2 separate regions of the Homo sapiens genome follow, and region 1 is linked to region 2. Evidence: fine-mapped expression QTL. A gene starts in region 2. The other region holds a variant in brackets. All regions are shown on one strand. Distances are from middle to middle.

The links.
Region 1: its variant is fine-mapped to the expression of HSD17B4 in blood mononuclear cells (TOPMed, PIP 0.96).

What each region holds. Positions count from the first base shown.
Region 1 is chr5:119,414,786-119,425,735 of GRCh38, forward strand. No RefSeq gene overlaps it. Among named protein-coding and RNA genes, the nearest start is that of HSD17B4, 32 kb to the right of the region's middle. The variant G/A (reference allele first, on the strand shown) is at 5,765.
Region 2 is chr5:119,446,507-119,457,456 of GRCh38, forward strand. HSD17B4 (hydroxysteroid 17-beta dehydrogenase 4) reads left to right here and starts at 5,991. Exons shown (of 24, transcript NM_000414.4): 1 at 5,991-6,127; 2 at 9,809-9,862. The coding sequence starts at 6,070. RefSeq lists an enhancer at 6,092-6,141.

The sequences.
Region 1 (10,950 bases), 32 kb before region 2:
TGTACCCTAGAACTTAAAGTATAATAATAATTTTCTAAAAAAAAAACTGCCAAAGGGGGAAAAAAAGAAGTTAGAGAACATTTTAAACTGGAAAACTTCAAAGTTTTCTTTGGAAACCAGGAGGGAATGATAGAAGGAAAGGAGAAGCAAGGTTGTGGATTGTAATGGTGGATCATAGAATCTAAGCAAGAGGAGAAAGTAAGACAGAAAAGAGGCTGGCATTAGGAGAGCCAATGGAGTCAATGCACTTCCATGAAAAGGCATGGAAGAAACTGAAATTCATATTACTAAGTGAAGAAAGCCCATCTGAAAAAGGCAACATACTGTATGATTTTAACTATATGACATTCTGGAAAGGAAAACCTATGGATAAAATAAAAAGATCAATGGTTGTCAGGGGCTTGGGGAGAGGGAGGAATGAATAGGCAAAGAAGAATTTTAGGGCAATGAAAAAGTTTGTGTGATACTATAATGATGGATATATGTCATTACACATTTGTCAAAACCCATAGAATGTACACTGATGGGTTTCTGGGTTTCTGGGTTTACATTAGGGGTTATGTAAACCACAGACTTTGAGTGATAATGATGTGCCAGTGTAGGTTCACTGATTGTAACAAATGTACCCCTCTGATAGGGTGTTGATAGTGGGGGAATTTATGTGTGTGTTGGGGGAACAGAGTGTATATGGGAACTCTGTACTTTCTGCTCAATTTTGCTATGAACCTAAAACTGCTCTAAAACATAAAGTCTTTTTTTTTAAGATGGTGGCTTCTTTTGGGGGGAGTCTTCTCTTGCTCTCTCATTTTCTCACCTTGAGTTGCCAGTTGCAGGCTGTGAGTGGCCTTATGGAGTGGTCCAGGTGGCAAGGAACTGATGTCTCCAGCCAACAGCCAGAAAAGACCCGGGGTCTGCCTATTGCCACAGAAGTGAACTCAGAGTGGGTCCTCCCCCAGATGAGTCTTGAAATGATTGCAGTTGAAGTGGACACCTTGATTGCCTTGTGAGACACATTTTGAGAGACTGCAAGCTTTAGGTATCTGGCTAAGCTATGCCCAAATTTCCAACCCACATAAACAGAGATAATAAAGGAGTGTTTGTGATGTAAGTGTCTAGGTTTTGGAGTGATTTGTTAAACAGCATAATAACTAATATACCTGTGAAGCCACCTCTCATATCCAAATGTTGAAGAGATTCTTTAAAACTGAGATTTAGATGAGAAAGACTAAACCGATAGTTTATACTATGAACTCTATGCATAATTAAGCATAAATATATCCAATCATCTATGAATATAAGTTATAATCACTGTGGTGTTCTAGAGTAAACTCTCCCTCCTTATGTAGGAAATTAACCTTTATTGAGCAGTTAGTATTTACTAGGCACTTAAATTATATCTTTCAGAAGGGGATTAGAGTAGGTCAATAATTTATACACGTTTATATAGATAGGGAAGGTGTTGAAATTCAAACTGAGGTGTGACTTTTAAGTAAAAGTAACTTGTATCACTCTTTCCAGAAATTTTCTTGCATTTTCTGATTCTATATTCTTTGCTCATCTATGTTAAATACTTAGGCCCCTCCCACGGTCTACAGTGGATGGGCTACTGCTTTGAATCTGAGTTGCTAATGCTAACTCCAAAGAGTTGTCATGCTGTCTATTTACAATTGTAAAAAGCTAGTTGCAGTGCAAATGTATTGTCTGTGCAAAACAGTAGTCCACTTTTTTTTTGAGGAATTTCTCCACGTTTTTGTAGGAGCTGACAGTCTTAGATCTTGCCCTAAAGAATTAGCTTATGACGGCCAGATGGGGTGGCTCACGCCTGTATTCCCAGAACTTTGGGAGGCTGAGGCGGGTGGATCATGAGGTCAGGAGATCAAGACCATCCTGGCTAACACAGTGAAACCCTGTCTCTACTAAAAATACAAAAAATTAGCCAGGTGTGGTGGTGGGTGCCTGTAGTTCCAGCTACTCGGGAGGCTGAGGCAGGAGAATGATGTGAACCTGAGAAGCGGAGCTTGCAGTGAGCTGAGATTGCACCACTGCACTCCAGCCTGGGCGACAGAGTGAGATTCCGTCTCAAAAAAAAAAAAAAAAAAAAAAAAGAATTAGCTTATGACTCAGCATTGGCTTGCCAAGACACTCCTTGGCCATAGTGATTGTATTCCAGCGAGACACTAAACAGACAATTTCTCTAGAATTTAAAAAAGTAAACCTGCTAAGGTCCTCATGATCCTCGGGAAGTTGTAGATAGTTTCCTGGGGTCTGGTCTTCTATAGTATAGAATGGATCACAGGACAATAGCAAACCTTCAAATACGTATAAAGCAAAAAAATGGAAAGAATAACAAGAGATTTAGAAAAACCCTGAATCATAGTGGGGTATTTTAAACATATTTCTGTCAGTAACTGATAGTGCAAGCAGATAAAATATCCATAAAGATACAGAAGACTTGAACAATATGATCTACAAACTTGACCTAATGACCACATATGGAACCCTGAGCCCCAAACTGCAAATACCCATTCTTTTCAAGTATACATGGAATCCCTGTTAAAATTGACAGTATGGTGGATCATAAAGCCGGCTTCCCTATATTTAAAAGGCTTGAAATCAGGGAATGTTTTTTGATAATAATGCATTAAGCTCAAAATCATTGACAAAAAGATGACTAGGAAATTTCCTTGTTTGATTTTAAGAAGATAACTTGTAAATAACTCATGCATCAAGAAAGAAATGTTAGAAGTTAGAAAACATTTTAAACTGGAAAACTGCAAAGTTTTCTAGGAAAGCATGATAGAAGGAAAAGAGAAGCAAGGCTGTAGATTGTAATGGTGGGTCATAGAGTCTAAGCAAGACAAGAAAGTAAGACAGAAAAGGGTCTGGGTATTAGGAGCGCCAAGGATGCACTGGAGGTCATGGTGCTGGAGACTTCTGCAGTGGGAGCACTTGTGCTAGAAAGGCAGGACATTCGGACATGAGATTTCAGAAGTGGTAAGGTTCTTGGTAATGAACACATTCAGGGTTGTGAGTATGGGCGAGAGTGCTAGCAGTTGTTAAATTTAAAAAGTCACTGGAAATGAGAGCATTAACTAGGATACAAAGTATTGGATGGGTCCAATTCAGTGGGTCCAATGCACATTGATTCTGAAGTCCCCAAGCAGAATAAAAGCAGTTGAGGTGGAGCGCAAGACAGCAGGAAATAAACTAAGTGATAAAAGAGGGGTTGTGAACAGGAAGTTGGAAGACTGAACGTAACAAAATGTGAAAGTGGGTGGTAAATCCCAAGTGGCTTAAGTGTCAAAGGAATAGGTGAATGAGGTAAGCCAGTTTTACTCCTAATTAACATTTCACTGGGTACATTCTGTAAAGAGAGACAAATGCTGGCAGTAGCTCAACTTTACACTGAAAGTGGTTTTCATAGTTTATACAACGCACAGATCATCCACGGCTTTCCAGTTAGAGAAACCAGCTAAGTTCTTATTCCTAAATTGCATTTTCTCAGCCTCAGCATGCAGCTTTATTTAGCATGCTTCTCCTCAGTACTCCCAAATTCTCTGCTTCCTAAGCTGATTAGCTTATTATGCAATACACATGGCTGCTTGTGGTTTCTCTAAGGGAGATACACATCATACAACTCAGGCTACACAAGCTGCCCAATATTGTGTTTTCTTTAGCATGGTGCATCTGCTTGTAATTGAGTAGGTTTTACGCTATGCAATACATGGTATTTTAAGGAGCTTAAATTGTTTTTTTAAAATTATTCATTTGTATAATTACACAAGTACATTTTCATGTGAACAAAAAAAGATAAAGTGAAAGTCTCTTTCATCACTGTCATGATCCCGAACATATCTCCAGAACTAACCACCGTTATCAGTTGGTATGCCCCTCCCTGGGCTTTTCTCTAGGCACATACATTCTTATAAGTATATGTAATGAAATTTGTGGTTTTACATATCAGATTATTTTACTCCCTGGCTTTTCAAGGGATTTCTATTATAATTAGAAGAAAATCCATACTTGTAACTATTGCCTACAAGGCTCCACACAATCTGGTCCTTGCCCACTTCTTTGACCTCCTCATGTACCAGGAAGTCAAGGTGTTTTCCCCACAGAGCTTTTGCATGTGCTTTTCATTCTGCCCAGAAGGGTCTGTCCTAATGCTTGCTTGACTGGTTCCTTGTTGACATTCAGGTCTCAGCTCAAAATTCACCTCCCTGTAAGCCTTTCCAGGATACCTTCTGTAGATTTGTACCTCCCCTCCCTGTCTCTGCTTCCAGTCTCTTTTGAATAGAATTATCCAGTTTTAGGCAAAAATCACTGGGGTTTGAATTCTCACTTCACTCTATGCTAGCAGTTATTTAACCTTTTTGTGGAAGGGTTTCTCATCTGAAAATGAGGATAATTATAAAATCTACTTTTTAGGTCGTTATGAAATCAGATAAGTTAATATTTGTAAAATACTAAGAAAGTGCCTAGAAAATAATGACATCTGTTAAATTAATAAATATCTTCCCTTAGCACTTACAGTTATCTGGAATTATTTATTTGTAGTTTATCAACTCTTTTCTCTCTAGAATATAAGATCTATAAATGCAGGGACCTTGTCTATTTTGTTTGCAGCACCAAGAACAGTGCCTGACCCATAGCAGCCCTGATATGGTTTGACTGTGTCCCCACACAAATCTCATCTTGAATTGTAGCTCCCATAATTTCCACATGTCGTGGAAGGGACTTGGTGGGAGATAATTGAATCACAGGAGCAGTTTCCCCCATACTGTTCTCCTGGTAGTGAATAAGTCTCACGAGATCTGATGGTTTTATAAGTGGGATTTCCCATGAACAAACTCTCTCTTGCCTGCCGATTTGTAAGATGTGATTTTGCTTTTCATTCACCTTCTGCCATGATTGTGAGGCCTCTCCAGCCACGTGGAACTGTGAGTCAATTAAACCTCTTTCCTTTATAATTACCCAGTCTGGGGTATGTCTTTATTAGCAGCATGAGAACAGACTAACAGAGTAAATTGGTACCAGTAGAGTGGGGCACTGCTGTAAAGACACACGAAGATGCGGAAGCGGCTTTGGAACTGGGTAACAGGCAGAGGTTGAAACAGTTTGGAGGGCTCAGAGGAAGACAGAAAAATGTAGGAAAGTTTGGAACTTCCTGGAGACTTGTTGAATGGTTTTGACCAAAATGATGATAATGATATAAACAATGAAATCCAGGCTGAGGTGGTCTCAGATGAAGATGAGAAACTTGTTGGGAACTACAGCAAAGGTCACTCTTGTTATGCTTTAGCAAAGAGACTGGTGGCATTTCGCTTCTGCCCTAGAAATCTGTGGAACTTTGAACCTAAGAGAGATGATCTGAAATTGGAACTTATGTTTAAAAGGGAAGCAGAGCATATAAGTTTGGAAAATTTGCAGCCTGACAATGAGATAGAAAAGAAAAACCCATTTTCTGAGAAGAAATTCAAGCTGGCTGCAGAATTTGTGTAAGAAATGAGGAACCAAATGTTAATCACCAAGAGAAAGAGGAAAATGTCTCCAGGGCATGTCAGAGGTCTTCACAGCAGCGTCTCTCACCACAGGCCTGGCAGCCTAGGAGGAAAAACTGGTTTTGTGGACTGGGCCCCGGGTCCCTCTGCTGTAGGCAGTCTAGGGACTTCATACCCTACCACACAGTCGCTCTAGCCATGGCTAAAAGGGGCCAAAGTATAGCTTAGGCCATGGCTTCAGAAGGTGTAAGCCCCAAGCCTTG[G/A]CAGCTTACACATGGTATTGAGCCTGAGGGTGCACAGAAGTCAAGAATTAAGGTTTAGGAATGTCTGCCTAGATTTCAGAAGATGTATGGAAACTCTGAATGTCCAGACAGATGTTTGCTGCAGGGGTGGGGACCTCATGGAGAACCTCTGCTAGAGCAGTACAGAAGAGAAAATGTGGGGTTGAGGCCCCACACAGAGCCCCCACTGGGGCACTGCCTAGTGGAGCTGTGAGAAGAGGCCACCGTCTTCCAGACCTCAGAATGGTAAGTCCACTGACACTTTGCACTGTGTGCCTGAAAAAGCCACAGACACTCAATGCCAGCCCGTGAAAGCAGCCAGGAGTGGGGCTGTACCCTGCAAAGCTGGGGCAGAGCTGCCCAAGACCATAGGAACCCACCTCTTGCATCACCATGACCTGGATGTGAGACATGGAGTCAAAGGAGATCATTTTGGAGCTTTCAGATTTGACTGCCCCTCTGGATTTTGGACTTGCATGGGTTCTGTGGCTCCTTTGTTTTAGCCAATTTCTCCAATTTGGAACAGGTGTATTTTCCCAATTCCAGTACCCCAATTGTATCTGGGAAGTAACTAACTTGCTTTTGATTTTACAGGCTCACAGGCAAAAGGGACTTGCTTGTCTCAGATGAGATTTTGGACTGTGGACTTTTGAGTTAATGCTGAAATGAGTTAAGACTTTGGGGGACTGTTGGGAAGGCATGATTGTTTTTTGTTTTTTTAAGATGGAGTCTCACTCTTTCACCCAGATTAGAGTGCAGTGACACTATCTCAGCTCACTGCAATCTCCTCCTCCCAGGTTCAAGCAATTCTCCTGCCTCAGCCTCCTGAGTAGCTGGGACTACGGTCATGCACCACCATTCCTGGCTAATTTTTGTATTTTTAATAGAGGCAGGGTTTCACCGTCTTGGCCAGGCTGGTCTAAAACTCCTATCCTCAGGCGATCCACCTACCTCAGTCTCCTAAAGAGCAGGGATTACAGGTGTGAGCCACCACACCTGGCTGGTGTGATTGGTTTTGAAATGTAAGGACATGAGATTTGGAAGGGGCCACGGGTGAAATGATATGGTTTGGCTGTGTCCCCACTCAAATCTCATGTTGAACTCTAGCTTCCATAACTCCCATGTGTCATGGGAGGGACCTGGTGGGAGATAATTGAATCATGGGGGTGGTTTTCCCCATACTGTTCTCGTGGTAGTGAATAAGTCTCACAAAATCTGATGGTTTTATAAATGGGAGTTCCCTTGCACAAGCTCTCTCTTGCCTGCCGACATATAAGATGTGGCTTTGCTCCTCATTTGCTTTCCACCATGATTGTAAGGCCTTCCCAGACATGTGGAATCATGAGTCAATTAAACCTCTTTCCTTTGTAATTACCCAGTCTTGGGTATGTCTTTATTAGCAGCATGAGGACAGACTAATACAAGCCCTTAATAAATAAAGGCTGAATGTATGCATGATGAAATCTTACCTCCTGCATAGGGATCTGTGTGCCCAAGAGATAAGTTTAAAATGGAAAACATGGTACTGCTTTTATTAAAAACACCACTTTATAAAAATGTGGAAATGTTTATTTATTTTATTTTATTTTACTTTAAGTTCTGGGATATATGTGCAGGATGTGCAGGTTTGTTACACAAGTATATGTGTGCCATGGTGTTTTGCTGCACCTGTCAACCCGTCCTCTAGGTTTTAAGCCCCACATGCATTAGGTATTTGTCCTAATGCTCTCCCTCCCCTTGCCCCCCATGCCCCAACAGGCTCCAGTGTATGATGTTTCCCTCTCTGTGTCCATGTTTTCTCATTGTTCAGCTTCTACTTATGAGTGAGAATATGCAGTGAAAGCATCACTTTTATACACTAGTCACCACTGGATGCTATCACCGTATCTTGTGCTGTTATACTAGAATGAATGCTAGCTCCTCTTGCACCTCCAAAGTGGGATGAACTCAACTGCAATTCTCTCACTTGTCTTACTTTTCCAAAGAGCACAGGATGCATAAGACCAGTGTAGCAGCAGCTACACACCCACAATACTTAGGAAACATGAGCAGCAGTTATCACAAGCAAAAATGATATTTCCCAGATCCCAGCACAATTTAGATCTTTATTGCAGTTGCCAGCCAAGCGATTTAGGATAATTTGCAGAATGGAGAAAACAGAAAAGCTTGTTTGAGCTTGTCAGGTTGCTTGCCAGGTTACCAGTCATACTGTGCCAGTTGGCCAGGGTCTGTGAGCCTAAACTCAATTGGGAAATATCTTGTGTAATAAGACTAGTTGTGTTTCTATGTACTCTTTTTTTCTTTTTTTTGACAGAGTCTTGCTCTGTCACCCAGGCTGGAATGCAGTGGCATGATCTTGGCTCACTGCAAGCTCCACCTCCTGGGTTCACCCCATTCTTCTACCTTAGCCTCCCGAGTAGCTGGGACCGCAGGTGCCTGCCACCATGCCCAGCTAATTTTTTGGACTTTTTAAGTAGAGACGGGGTTTCACTGTGTTAGCCAGGATGGTCTCGATCTCCTGACCTCGTGATCCCACCTCGGCCTCCCAGTGTGTTGGCATTACAGGTGTGAGCCACCGCGCCCGGCCCACTGTGTTGTACCTTTTGTTACCAACATAACAAGGTTTCAGAGGCCCAGTTAGGGTGCAATGACATTTGCTAGGCATCGATTAGTAACACTGACTTTGCTACTCCAAAGGATGCTTAAAAATTTCCTTCTTGCTAACATTTTCTTGCTACAGCAGGTTCAACCTGGATCATCTGTCCAAGGCTAAGGAATAAGATAAAGGAGAAAAAAATCAGAAAAAAAAATCTATGAGATTTCCACCTAGTAAGCTGAGCTTGAGAAAAAGAGCAAGTCTAAGCTCTGTTCCTGGCTCTAGCAATGGTTCTACAGTTCATGCAAAATCCAGCTGCCGTTGCAGTATAGAGCCCCTTAGAAAGCTTCTTGTGACCCCAGGAAAGGAATTTCTATCTCCATTCAAGACTTGATCCTGACTTATGCAATATGAGTTCCTGGAAAGCCTATGTTGATCCCCAGATGGATCCATTTTCTTATTAAACTCAGATACTGTGGTTTAAAAATGCTAAAGCATACTTTTGGCCTGCATAGCTGCCATCTAAAGACAGCTGCAGCTCAGTGACAGCTCAAATCAGCCATGGTAAATACAAAAGTTTTCATCTCTCCTTGCCATATTTTGGTTTCAGATGGTAGCTCTCATTTGTTGCCACATTGAGCACCAAAATGTTCAGGATTCAGTGTGGGCCTCTCCCTATTTCATACCTCAAGTTCTGTAACTGCAGAGATAGGAAATCTATGCCCATAGGAACCAAATGAAAACAAATAAGATTACAAAAAGGAGTATGCTTGTTCCAGTGCCCAATGCCAGGCAGGTCTAGGCTGGCCACTCCATAGTTTCAAGTGATAGTCTGGACGAAACTGCCATACTGGAAGATAAAGAACAGAAAGGAGATGGCTTAGCCTCTTACTAGCTGAGTAACAGTCTTGATCAGCTTGCTGATAATCCATGCGACAGAATAAAGGAAGCAGAAGGAAGCCCACCATATAGGTGTAGGAAGTGGAACAGAAACGGTGGGGCTTGTTACTGCCTTTAGAGCATGGTATCCTCACGTTAGTAAATGTGGTTCAGCGAATACCTCTGGCTCTCTTCAGTCAGATTGGTCTTTCTTCCTTCCTCTGGGGAGAGATACTAAGTGGGGCCATACAAAAGAGGGGCTAGTTATGTCTGTCCTCACTGAGCCAAGGTTGAATCATGGCCTAAGATGCAGAAAATTTCTCCTTCTCCCCAAGTAAGATAAGTCCATTAAGATGACACTTTTTCTAATTATATTATCTGCAGCATCGACACTATTGACCTCTTCAGTTTCTACTCTCCCTTTGGTGAATGCTATATTTTTCTGGTCACTGTCACAGCTCTCACTCACTTTTCCTCAGTTGTTATTGTTGCCTTTCCTCTAACTGGGTCTTAAATGTGGGGATCTCCTCTCTCTGTCTCTCTCTTTGTGTGTATCTCTCTATTTCTCTGTCTTTCTCTTGCTCTGCATATTCTGGCTGGATAATTTCGTCCACTTCCAAGACACCAACTCTATTTTCATGTTGTTCTCTTTTATATCTTAAACTCTTGATTCCCTCTTAATTTCTAAAACTAATTTTCCAGATGCTTTCTGAGTTGTCTACAAAAAGTCCTCATTTGCATCTTAAAATCCACATGTTAAACGAAATCTATTGACTCCATCTCTGTTCCCCCAATTTTTCTACTCATTGCCCTCCATAAACTCACTCCTCTTCTGATGTTTCCTATTCCAATTAATGGCATGCCTACCTAAATCCTTCAAGCTTAAATCAAATGCCTCCTTCTTCTTGAAGTCTTTCATGCCACCTTGGTTAGAATTATGAGCTCTTTTCTTTGCACTATATGTTGCTTATTTTTCTTTCTTAGTATGGATTTGTCAAGAACTGTGAAGGGTCTGAGATTATAACTTACTGGCAAGCTGACTAGTTAGCCTAACTAGTTCAGTGGATGCTGAGACAAGATACCAGACTCCAGGGTCAGAGACAAATGCTTTTATTGCTTACAGCACAAGTTCTATGAGTTTCATGTTTTCATTGGTTTCCTTGTCCTTGCCATGCTCCATGAGTGAGAGGCAGAGGGGCCTAGGTTGGTGCTGAGCATGCAGCAGTTTTGTGCCACAGCTGAAGAACTCTGAGGCTAGGAAACCTGGATCTTTTATAATGGCTGCAAGCAAACCTTCCCGAACTTTGCTCAAGAGGGAGATGTTATATTTATGACACTGGACAGTAAACAAACCTGTCCTTTGTTCCATAAGCAAATGCTATCTCTATTTTCCATTTCATTGTCTTATTCATTATACAAACATCCTTAAAACGATAGTCTAGGACAAAAGGGTAGTTAGTACCTCTTGTCATAAGATGAGCAGAAACATGAAAGGTCTATGGAGAATTGGCTCTCAATGGGATTCACCCTGCCTTGTGAATCCCATTGTATGTGCTTAGTATATATAATGTTTTTTTTTTTCCTACATGTCCAAATGTAATCTCTGATGTTGGAAATTGTGGCTGATTTAGGAATATTTTTGGTAAAAATAATCAACCTAAGGTTTCTTCATACCCAGAGGAAACCTGTTAAT
Region 2 (10,950 bases):
TAGCTAAAGTTAAAGGGGTATCATGCAGTTTTTCCGTGGACTGGACGTTAAAATAAAAGCACAGTGGGTTTTTCTTAAAACACTAACTGCTCTTTAACAAAATTATAAAAGGTTAAATAGAGTCTATGGAAATCTTACCTTATGGTCAGACATTAAAATTTGATAATTATGTCTATAGGGTTTTATTAAAATCAAGTTTAACATTAATAACACACTAATATAAAGGTAAAATTTAGCTTATCTGGTATAAAATCATACAGGAAGCATTGTCAAATGTAAAAGGGTGTTTGGGTTTCTTTGGTCTAACAACTAATAAAAATAGGTGCCAAAGGAAATTTCTCAGCAGGGAGGCACTAAGGACTATAAAGTCCACTGCTGGTGTTCCCAAATTTAAAACAAAAGATCAGTTTCTCAGAAATTATACACTTGGTTTATCTTCCACTTTCCTTTCTCTCAAAACTAAATGTCTTTTAGCACAGGTACCACCCCTAGAATTTCCAGTAAATCAGCACCAGCCTGGGGATCACATTCTTGTCAAAGGGTGGAAAGAAGGAAAATTTGTGCCAGCCTGGGAAGGACCCTACCTAGTGCTGCTAACCACTGAGACTGTTGTTCGTACCGCGGAAGGGGGTTGGACACATCACACCCGAGTCAAGTAAGCGCCGTTATCATCAGAATCATGGGCCATTGTTCCTGGATCAAGCCCTACCAAACTAAAGCTAAGAAAAGTGTAGTCTATCTATCTTTTCCTTTCCTTTCTGAATCCAGTGCCTATAGCCATTACTATTCCTACCACTAGCAACTCTAACCCCACTTTTGAGCATTTTTATGGTTTAGGAGTAGAGGTCACTGGAAAGGATCCTATAGGTTTCTTTAAGATGTGGTTTGTTCTCCCTCCTCCACCTCCTACAACTGCCCCTTTCCCAAACCTATGAAATCAAACTATGCCTCGCCTCATGCCAAATGACAAAAGCAAGGTCTCAGTAGTAGAAATAGAAGACCTAAGGCAAACCATAGCCATTGAAACAGAGTAAAAAGATGTAAATCCCTGGTTAAAATGGATTAAATATTCCGTTCGCACTTGAAACAAAAGCGACTGTTACTGTTGTGTGCACAGTAGGCCAGAGGCCCAGGTTGTTCCCTTTCCACTGGGATGGTCCTCAAATCAACTGGACATGGAGTGCATGGTAGCTCTTTTTCAAGATTCTACCGCCTGGAATAACAAATTGTGCCAAGCTCTTTCTCTGCTATTTCCTGAAGTTCAACACGCTGTGGGTCAGCCCCCAAGGGCCATCCAGCCTCCATCTTCCAAAGCCAATTTTACCTCATGTCTCCAATGACAAGGGGAAAAATTTGGCATTCCCTGGAGACTTAACAGGATGCAGGGAAGTCAGGCACTTCCAAGAGCTGACCCAACAGTCTGCCCTTATTCATCCCTGACTGGTTGTATGGTGGTATTAGGGAGGACCTTTACTGGACACTCTGCCAAATAATTAGAGCAGTACTTATGGTCTAATTCAATTGGTTATCTCTTTTACTCTGGCATTTCATCAACTGGAGGAAGGAAAAATAAGACATCGTAAAGTGAAAGAGGCCCCTTATGGGTCTTTCAACTCTCATGTCTATTTAGACGCAATTGGAGTCCCACTGGGAATACCAGATCAATTTAAAGCCCAAAATCAAATAGCTGCAGGATTTCAGCCAGTATTTTGGTAAGTTACAATTAATAAAAATGTAGGTTTGATAAACTACATTTATTGCAACCAACAGCGATTTATTAACTACCCTAGAGATGCTGTTAAAAGAATAGCTGAGCAATTAGGGGCTACTAGCCAGATGGCTTGGGAAAATAGGATAGCCTGAGACATGATATTAGCAGAAAGAGGAGGAGTTTGCATCATGATTAAAACTCAGTGTTGTACCTTCATCCCAAACAATACCGCCCCTAATGGAAGTATAACAAAGGCATTGCAAGGTCTGACTGCTCTGTCCAGTGAGTTAGCCAGCAACTAAGGGTAAATGGGCCCTTTACAGGATGCCTAGAAAAGTGGTTTGGTAAATGGAAAGGAATAATAGCCTCAATTCTTAACTTCCCTTGCAGCCGTAATGGGTGTACTTACTCTTGTTGGGTGCTGTATCATACCATACATCTGTGGGTTGGTGCAGAGGCTCATAGAAATGGCACTTACTAAATCCTCCCTTAACTATCCTCCACCTTATCCAGAGAAGCTTATTCTTTTGGAAAATCAAGCAGAACAACTAAGCCAAGACATGTTAAAGAAGTTTGAAGAGAAAGAGCTGTAAGGAAATGCAAGAGGAGGAGTTGTTAGATATGAGTTCTAAATTTCTTTTAAAAGAATCAGTATGTCAGTGTATTCAATTCTTTGCCTTCTACTTTGAAACTTAACTTCCTCGTAAAGCAACCTTTTCCGATTACCTGCTCCACCCTGTCTCATTCTGATTACCTGCTCATTCTCTACCCTGGCTCATTCCGATGTCCTCTCTGTCATAACCATTTTTCCTGCCAAACCACTCACCCTGTCACTCTCTTTAAATTAGCCAACTGGAATTAGTTTAACCTGTGTGGACTAACCCTAGGCAATAGGGGAATGACACAGCAGCAGGGGCCACATGCATCAGGAATAAGGACCCCTTCCCCTCCCTTGTCCGGGTGTGCGCTCACCATTGCTCCATCTGTGAGAGTGCAACCTTCTATAGAAGTAAACTGCGTTGCTGAGAAGAAAAAAAAATTTTATATTCGAGTGCTATTTCTTCTGTGGCACCAAAACTTTATTTATAACAGAAACCAAGCTGTCAGAGCTCTGGAACCATAGCTGTCTGCTAGGTGTCTCTAGCCATAGTTTTGCTTCCCCTTCACAGATGCAGTTTGTCTAAAATTGAAGCCATAACCCCTCCAAAGCCACTCTTTCTCCACTATTTATTTTGATGAATGGCCCATCGTAATCTAGATTTTCAAATCAAAATATAGGATTATTTCAGTTGCTCTTTTCTCATATCTACATCTAATTAATCAAAAAGACTAGTTCTGAAGCAGGAAATTTTCCTGACCCCTTCATGGGTGGGGGCAGGAACTGGAGCACATAGGATCTAGAACTAGCTGGCCGCTTTGGGTCTGGCAGGGGTGGACTCCATTCACTGGGTCCCACTGCGTTCCACAGGAACGGGGAGCACAGGTGAGTGGGTGCAGGAGCTGGGGCCAGTGCATGCAGGAGCAAAACTCTATGTGGCCCTTGGCAGTGTCTAGAGGGGTACCTAAGGCCCCTGAAGCCCCAGAGGGTGTGTGTTACAGTGCTCTTTTAACTTTGCCATCCACTGATGGCTTAAATGTTAAACAGCTCAGTAGGCCCTCTGTTTTTTGGTGTGAGGCACTTGCTCTCTGCCAGTGAGGGCAGAGGGTCAGTGTGACAGCCTTTAGTGTCACACCTGTGGCACCTGAGCTCTTGTTTGGCATCCAGGAAAAATCAGGTCACAGGAACAAATTGAATAATGGTGAATGCAGAGGATTTTATTGCCGATGAGAGTGGCTGTCAATGGGAAGGGGAGCTGAAAAGGGGATGGAGTGAGAAGGTGATCTTCCCCAGGAGCAACGCCATTAAGCCATACCTCTGAAGTCGAGCTGTTTCTTCTCTCCTCTCCTCTCTGCCATTGGAGCCTGGGGTTTTTATGGGCACAGGATGGGGGGCAGGGGGACCATAGGTGGTTTTGGAAAAGGCAACATTCAAGAGGGAAAACAGGGATGCATGTTCTCACTTTGGGCTGTGTTTTCAGGCTTGAGGTTGGAGCCCTCACTGGGGACCTGCCCTCTTCTGCCCAGAATTTCCCTGCCTTCTATCCCTGTCAGTTCCATTTGCAAATACAGTTTATCTCAACATTTCTTCTTCAACATTTCCTCTGCCTTACTTCTGGTTTCCATAATTTCCCCCAAATCTTTTCTATGTTCTCCTTGCCCACCTCTAATTATTGGGGGAACCTGCCCCCAATATTTCAACATAGGTTCTTTCTATTTTCCATAAGTGTCAGTCAGCTGAGAAATAGAGAAAGAGTACAAAGGGAGGAATTTTACAGCTGGGCTGCCGGGGGTGACATCACATATCAGTAGGACCGTGATGCCCACCTGAGCCTCAAACCAGCAAGTTTTTTATTAAGGGTTGCAAAAGGGAAGGGGGTGTAAGAACAGAGAGTAGGTACAAACATCACATGCTTCAAAGGGCAAAAAGCAGAACAAAGATCATATGCTTCTGAGGGAACAGGACAAAGGGCAAAAGCAGAACTACTAATAAGGGTCCAACAAAGATCACAAGACAAAGGGCAAAAGCAGAGCTACTGATAAGGGTCTATGTTCAGCAGTGCATGTATTATCTTGATAAACATCTTAAACAACAGAAACAGGGTTCGAGAGCAGACAACTGGTCTGACCACAAATTTACCAGGGCCGGGTTTTTCCCCACCGTAGTAAGCCTGAGGGTACTGCAGGAGACCAGGGCATATCTCAGTCCTTATCTCAACCACATAAGACAGAGCAGCCGTTTATAGACCTCCCCCCAGGAATGCATTCCTTTACCAGGGTATTAATATTAATATTCCTTGCTAGGAAAAGAATTTAGTGATATCTTCCCTACTTGCACGTCCGTTTATAGGCTCTCTGCAAGAAGAAAAATATGGCTGTTTTTGCCCAACCCCGCAGGCAGTCAGCCCATATGGTTGACTTCCCTTGTTCCCTAAAAATTGCTGTTATTCTGTTCTTTTTCAAGGTGCACTGATTTCATATTGTTCAAACACACATGTTTTACAATCAATTTGTACAGTTAACACAATTATCACAGTGGTCCTGAGGTGACGTACACCTTCAGCTTACGAAGATAACAGGATTAAGAGATTAAAGTAAAGACAGGCATAAGAAATTATAAAAGTATTATTTGGGAACTGATAAATGTCCGTGAAATCTTCACAATTTATGTTCCTCTGCTGCGGCTCTAGCAGGTCCCTCTGTTTGGGGTCCATGACTTCCCGCAACATCCAATCAATCCTCCATAATGGGCAAAGTGATCTTTCCATAGTGTAAATGTGTTCCCACCACTCTCTGGAGTAATCCTACTTAAAACCGTTTTCAGCACAAAATTCAAACATCTAAACATGATCTTGCTGGCTTTGCTTTTGTGGCTTTACCCTCTTTCTCCCCAAACCTAGCTAGTGTTTGTGCTGCCTGTAATGCCCTTCTTTCTTTGCAGGGGTCGCCACTTTAGGTCCTGGTCCTCCTTCAGAAAGTTTTTCCTCTTTCTCCCCAGCGGGGATAGGGTCTGTTTATTTTGACACCATTAGCTCACTTACACACATTGGTCACAAGTCTAGGCTGCACCGTTATTGAAAGTTTACCATCTGACTCTGAGTAGCTTGAGGATCCTATCAAAACTCAGGAGATGCTCAGTAAATGTTGATTGAACTATGACTGTTCTCAACATACAAACGCAAGATCATTTAGGAACACTTGTCAAAATGTTTTTGCCCCTTGAGATTCTATTTTGGGAGGTAAGCAGTGGGGGTCCAGGACTCTGCATTTTGACAGTCCCCTGATGTTTGCATGTAGAAGTGCAGGGATTATTACACTGACAAATCTTTACCATCCCTAAGGGGGACTTTCCTTCCCAGGGGCTATCTCTGGAAGCCCCTCAAGGATAGGGGCCGCATGCTGTTTCTCTAGGTCAGCAACTAAACCCAGAAAACGTTTATTGAGTGAATGATGAAACGACAGGTGAATAGATGAACGCAAGGTGTCGAGTTAACTATTCTTCTACACAAGTCCTAGCAGCTCCCATTGCTTCCAGCCGCAGAAATGGCCCCTGGAAGGCAAGTCTTCCAGCGAGTGGAGTCACTCTTAACTACATTTCCCAGGATTCCAAGGGAGCCGCGCGCTCTGCGCTCATCTTCCTACCAGAAATCGGCAAGTCACTGACCCTCGTCCCGCCCCCGCCATTCCCCGCCTCCTCCTGTCCCGCAGTCGGCGTCCAGCGGCTCTGCTTGTTCGTGTGTGTGTCGTTGCAGGCCTTATTCATGGGCTCACCGCTGAGGTTCGACGGGCGGGTGGTACTGGTCACCGGCGCGGGGGCAGGTGAGCATGCGAAGGTTGGAGGCCGCGCCCCTTGCTGAGGCGCAGCTGGCTGCTCTTTTCGGGCCGGCATACGCGCGCAGCCGCAGCTGAGGTCACCCCGCTGAGGTGGTGGGGAGGGGAATGGTTATTCTTGAGGCACCGCATCTCTTGAGGAGGAAAGAGCCGGAAACACCTGGTCTCTCAAGCAGGTACAGCCCGCTTCTCCCCAGCACCCCGGTGTGGGCTTCCCAAGGTCCTGCCTGAGAGGAGAGGCCAGGCTGGGCTGCTGATTGCAAAACTGGGTGAAAGTTCTCCCTGACCCTTATCTGTGGGCATCGATTGTTACTCTTCCTGCAATTAACTCTCTTAGATCTTTGCCTAGTCTTTTAAAGGACTGAAAAGCCGCGAGGGGCGGGGGCTGGAATTCGCCCCCTGAAGCGCAGAGATGTCAGCTCCTGAAAAGTCATTCGGTCGTTCAGTGTTTGTTTCCCTCTGTCGTAAGATTTTAAGTTCGTGAGAGGACCTTCTTTAAAGAGGGCGTCTGATAAGAGCCCTTCCCCGTTGGAGTTTGTATGCTTAGCAAGTCACAATCTGTTCTCGAAATCCACTGGAGTCTTGGCAGAGGTTGTAAGCTCAAATGCGCACAGGGGTCAGGCGTATGATGGAGAAAGAAAATGGGAGTAGGATGGGCACATCTGAGGAACTGGAGAGCAGAGAATTCCGAAGTGGACCGGCCAGTGGGAAAGTTGCCTGTATTTCAGGAGCGGCAAAATGGAAAATTGTTATGTGAAATAGCCCCATTTTTTAAAGTACAAAAAATTAAAACAAACCATTCATACCAACATAGATGCTGTGCAGTGAGATTTTACATTAGTTTCTCACCAGTGGGTGACCTCTGTAACCTCCAAGTGCAGGGATCTTGACATTATGCACCTTTGATTCTCCACTGGTAGTACCTTATACCTGGAAAGGCCCTAATGCATGAATTATTTGAGTTATATATTAAACGTTACAAACTGGAATTCTGTCAATTAATTCCTATGTACTTTCATATCTGTATTGATAAAGTGGCTTCTTATGCTGCCTTTCAGAAAATGCTTTCAGTGTTGATGAATAGCCAAGTATTTTATACCCATAGCTGTCTGGTTATCTCTGCATGGGCATGTATTTGGGTGTAGTCATACCTTCTAAATGTTTTTAGGAAAACATTTTGTTTACACTTTGCTTTTATTGTAAATAATGTATTTTACAACGCTTGGTGTTTTAAATCTTTTTTGACAGCTCTTGGATAATTTTCATGCAGGAGGTCCAGGGATTACATTCTAAGACGTTTTTGCCATCGCTAAGGAGACTTTCCTTTTCAGGGGCTATATCTGAAAATCATTCAAGGATAGGGACTGCTTCTTTTGACACCATTAGCATACTTACACATGGTATGCAGTACATTTTACACCAGTACTCAGTACACTTACACAAGCACATACATCTGTATTTAAAACCAGTTCATGATATAGTGTGTAGTACAGGCAATGCATCCTGAAATTTATTTTCTATTCTGTTTTATTTATAAATTGTAATTGTAACCCACAAAATTGATTTTGTGAAACAATGAGTTGTGACTAGACAGTTATGAACTTAGCACCTGCTGTTCATAAACTGGTTAAATTCTCTCTTACCCATTCAGAGTTGATTAAATTTTTTTTTTTTTTCAGAGCTAAAGGTTTTACTCTGTACCCAGGCTGGAGTGCAGTGACCCGATCATGGCTCACTGTAACCTTGAACTCCTGGGCTCAAGTGATCCTTTTGCATCAGCTTCCAGACTAGCTAGGACTGTAGGCATGTGCCACCACGCCCAGCTAATTTTTAAATGTTTTCAAGAGATGGAGTCTCGCTTTGTTGCCCAGGCTGGTCTCAAACTCCTGGCCTCAAGTGATCCTTCTGCTTGGATTAAATTCTAAAATAAGTTATTTGGTGAAATTTCCTAGTTTTGGAAAACTGTATATTTTTGGTTCTTTTTGTTTTTGTTTGAGAGGGAGTTTTGCTCTGTTGCCGAGGCTGGAGTGCAGTGACATGATCTTGGCTGACTGCAACCTCTGCCTTCCGGGTTCAAACAATTCTCCTACCTCAGCCTCCCAAGTAGCTGGGGGTACAGGTGCACACCACCAAGCCCAGCTGATTTTTGTGGTTTGAATAGAGACGGGGTTTCACCCTGTTGGCCAGGCTGGTCTTGAACTCCAGACCTCAAATGATCCGCCCACCTCTGTCTCATAAAGTGTTGGGATTACAGATGTGTGTCACTACTCCTGGCCTTGGGTTGTTTTTGGAAGGGGCTAATAATTTATGTATCTCAGTTTGTTATTTGTATACTTATTGATTAATTTATACTAAATATAAATTGTTAATTAAATTTATTCATTTGTCAATGAAATTTATCAATTAACTTAAAATGTAAAAAATATACACATATTAAAAAATGTAAACAATACAGAAAAACAATCCAGAAGTAAGCCTTCCACCCCTTATTGCTAGCCACATAGTTCTGTCCTCCAGAGGTAACCACTAATTGCCAGTTTCTAATGTGTTTTTCCCGAGATACTCTATGCCTATAAAACTTCTCTCTTGGCTGGGGATGGTGGTGGCTCACGCCTGTAATCCCAGCACTTTGGGAGGCCGAGGTGGGCTGATCACGAGGTCAAGAGATCGAGACCATCCTGGCCAACATGGTGAAACCCCATCTCTACTAAAAATACAAAAATTAGCTGGGCGTGGTGGCGGGCGCCTGTAGTCCCAGCTACTCGCGAGGCTGAGGCAGGACAATCACCTGAACCTGGGAGGTGGAGGTTGCAGTGAGCCGAGATCATGCCACTGCACTCCAGCCTGGGCGACAGAGTGAGACTGGATCTCAAAAAAAAAGAAAAAAAGCAAAACTTTCTCTCTCTCTCTCTCTCTCTCTCTCTATATATATATATATAATTTCTTTTTGGATATATAAATTTACACCTTGTAGCTTTGAGTCAGAATTAAATATTTTCTGTATTTGATGACTGTGTAGTCAGGGTTCACTGTGGGATACAGAAACCACTAGATATTTTAAGCAGCAAAGGATTCAATACAGGCAATTAGGTTTTAGGCAGGTCTTCTTAGAATAACTCCTGAAACAATAGGAAATTGATCCATTAGAGGAGGCAATACCTCTGAGGCTGTCATTGGAGCTGTGCCACAGCCCAAGTAGCACTGGCACTAGGGACCTGAAGTATGGAAGCTGCCATCCAGGGATTAGGGAGCTGAATGAAGAAGTCGCTGCTATAGTCAGTTTCTGAATACCTAGGAACTTTCAAGAAAACTAGCTTCTTAACAACAACAGCCAGAACTCCCAGTAAGGTGGTCTCTGTCTCACTTACACCTTCTAAGTTTTATGCAGATGCATCAGATGGTGGAACCCAATTCACAGCATCCTAGCAGCTAAGTAGAATGGTAGGAAGTGGTAGTAGAATAGGTGGAAAAATACAGTTTTAAGCTTTCCAGCCTCTGCAAGCAGAAGAGAGTGGATAGGTTGAGAATGTCAGTGATAGGATAGGTTGAGAGTATCATTAAAATGTAATTAATTGTTCACCAATTTCTTTAAATGGGGATTGAGTTGAGCGGACCAAAAAAATTATGCTGACATTTCTTCAACTTTCTGATTATTTTGTTTTTGATTAGGATTGGGCCGAGCCTATGCCCTGGCTTTTGCAGAAAGAGGAGCGTTAGTTGTTGGTAAGTTGGTGTGTTTTTCTTTTTAATCTGTAGCTGATAACTGAAATACAATCTTTACAAGCTATCTTTGTCTTTCTATCAAATAATTTGTCAAGGTTGAATTTTATTATTAATTTTTACTTTTGCCAGAAGGTTTTTACCCCGACTAAGGCTGTCTGTCTAAATTACTTTTAAAAGGGAACCAGTTTCACAGAATTCCCAGCTTAACAGAATTGATAACGAAGGGCTAGGGGGTAGGCATGCTGGCTTGTGGCTATAACTCCAGTGACTCAGGAGGCTGAGGTGGGAGGATCGCTTGAGACCAGGAGTTCGAGCCTGCAGAGAACTATGATTATACCACTGCACTCCAATCTGGGTGATGGCGCAAAAAAAACCCTGTTTCTCACAGAAAAGGGTGGGGACAAGCATTTATTGTATAAAAGGAAATTCTTGACTTCAGTAAATTGTAGGCTGTAATTTTTTGAGACAGGAGGTTTGTCTACTGGTGCGAGATCAAAAGAGAGCCCCTGTAAGTGTATTGATAAAAGTAAGAAATAACTGAATTTTGAGAACTGGAAGTTTGGAGTCAAGGAATCTAAAGTATGGGTTTCTTGACTCTTTCATCAAAACTTTTCAGCTGGAAGTGTTTTAAAAAAATTTAATTGAGGGGGCAGTTACATGAGTTTTTGTTTGTGGAGGGGTCAGATGGAAGATACTGTATTGAAGAATCCTAAAGGTGGGAGGTTTTAGTAATCTGCATGGTTTGGACTGATCTAATGTGCTTGACAGTTGGTGTGGACACAGAAACGAATTTGTCCACAACTGAGCCTTTCTGGGGAATAACTAAATGGGTGCTAAGTGCAGGGGGATATGTAGGACCCAGTACTTATTAGCATATTTCCTGGGATAAAACTGTGGGCCCACAATGATCTTCTAATTTCAGCTTTCTGACATCTTAACGAGGCAATACAGAGAGACGAATTTTCATCAGTTTGTTCAGGGAGACACATATAACAAAAGAGTAAGCAAGCAACCAGGTTTTCTAAACAAGCCCTAAGCAGAGCACTTGATACACTTTTCTCCTTCATTGTGGATGTGTAGCTTATCTT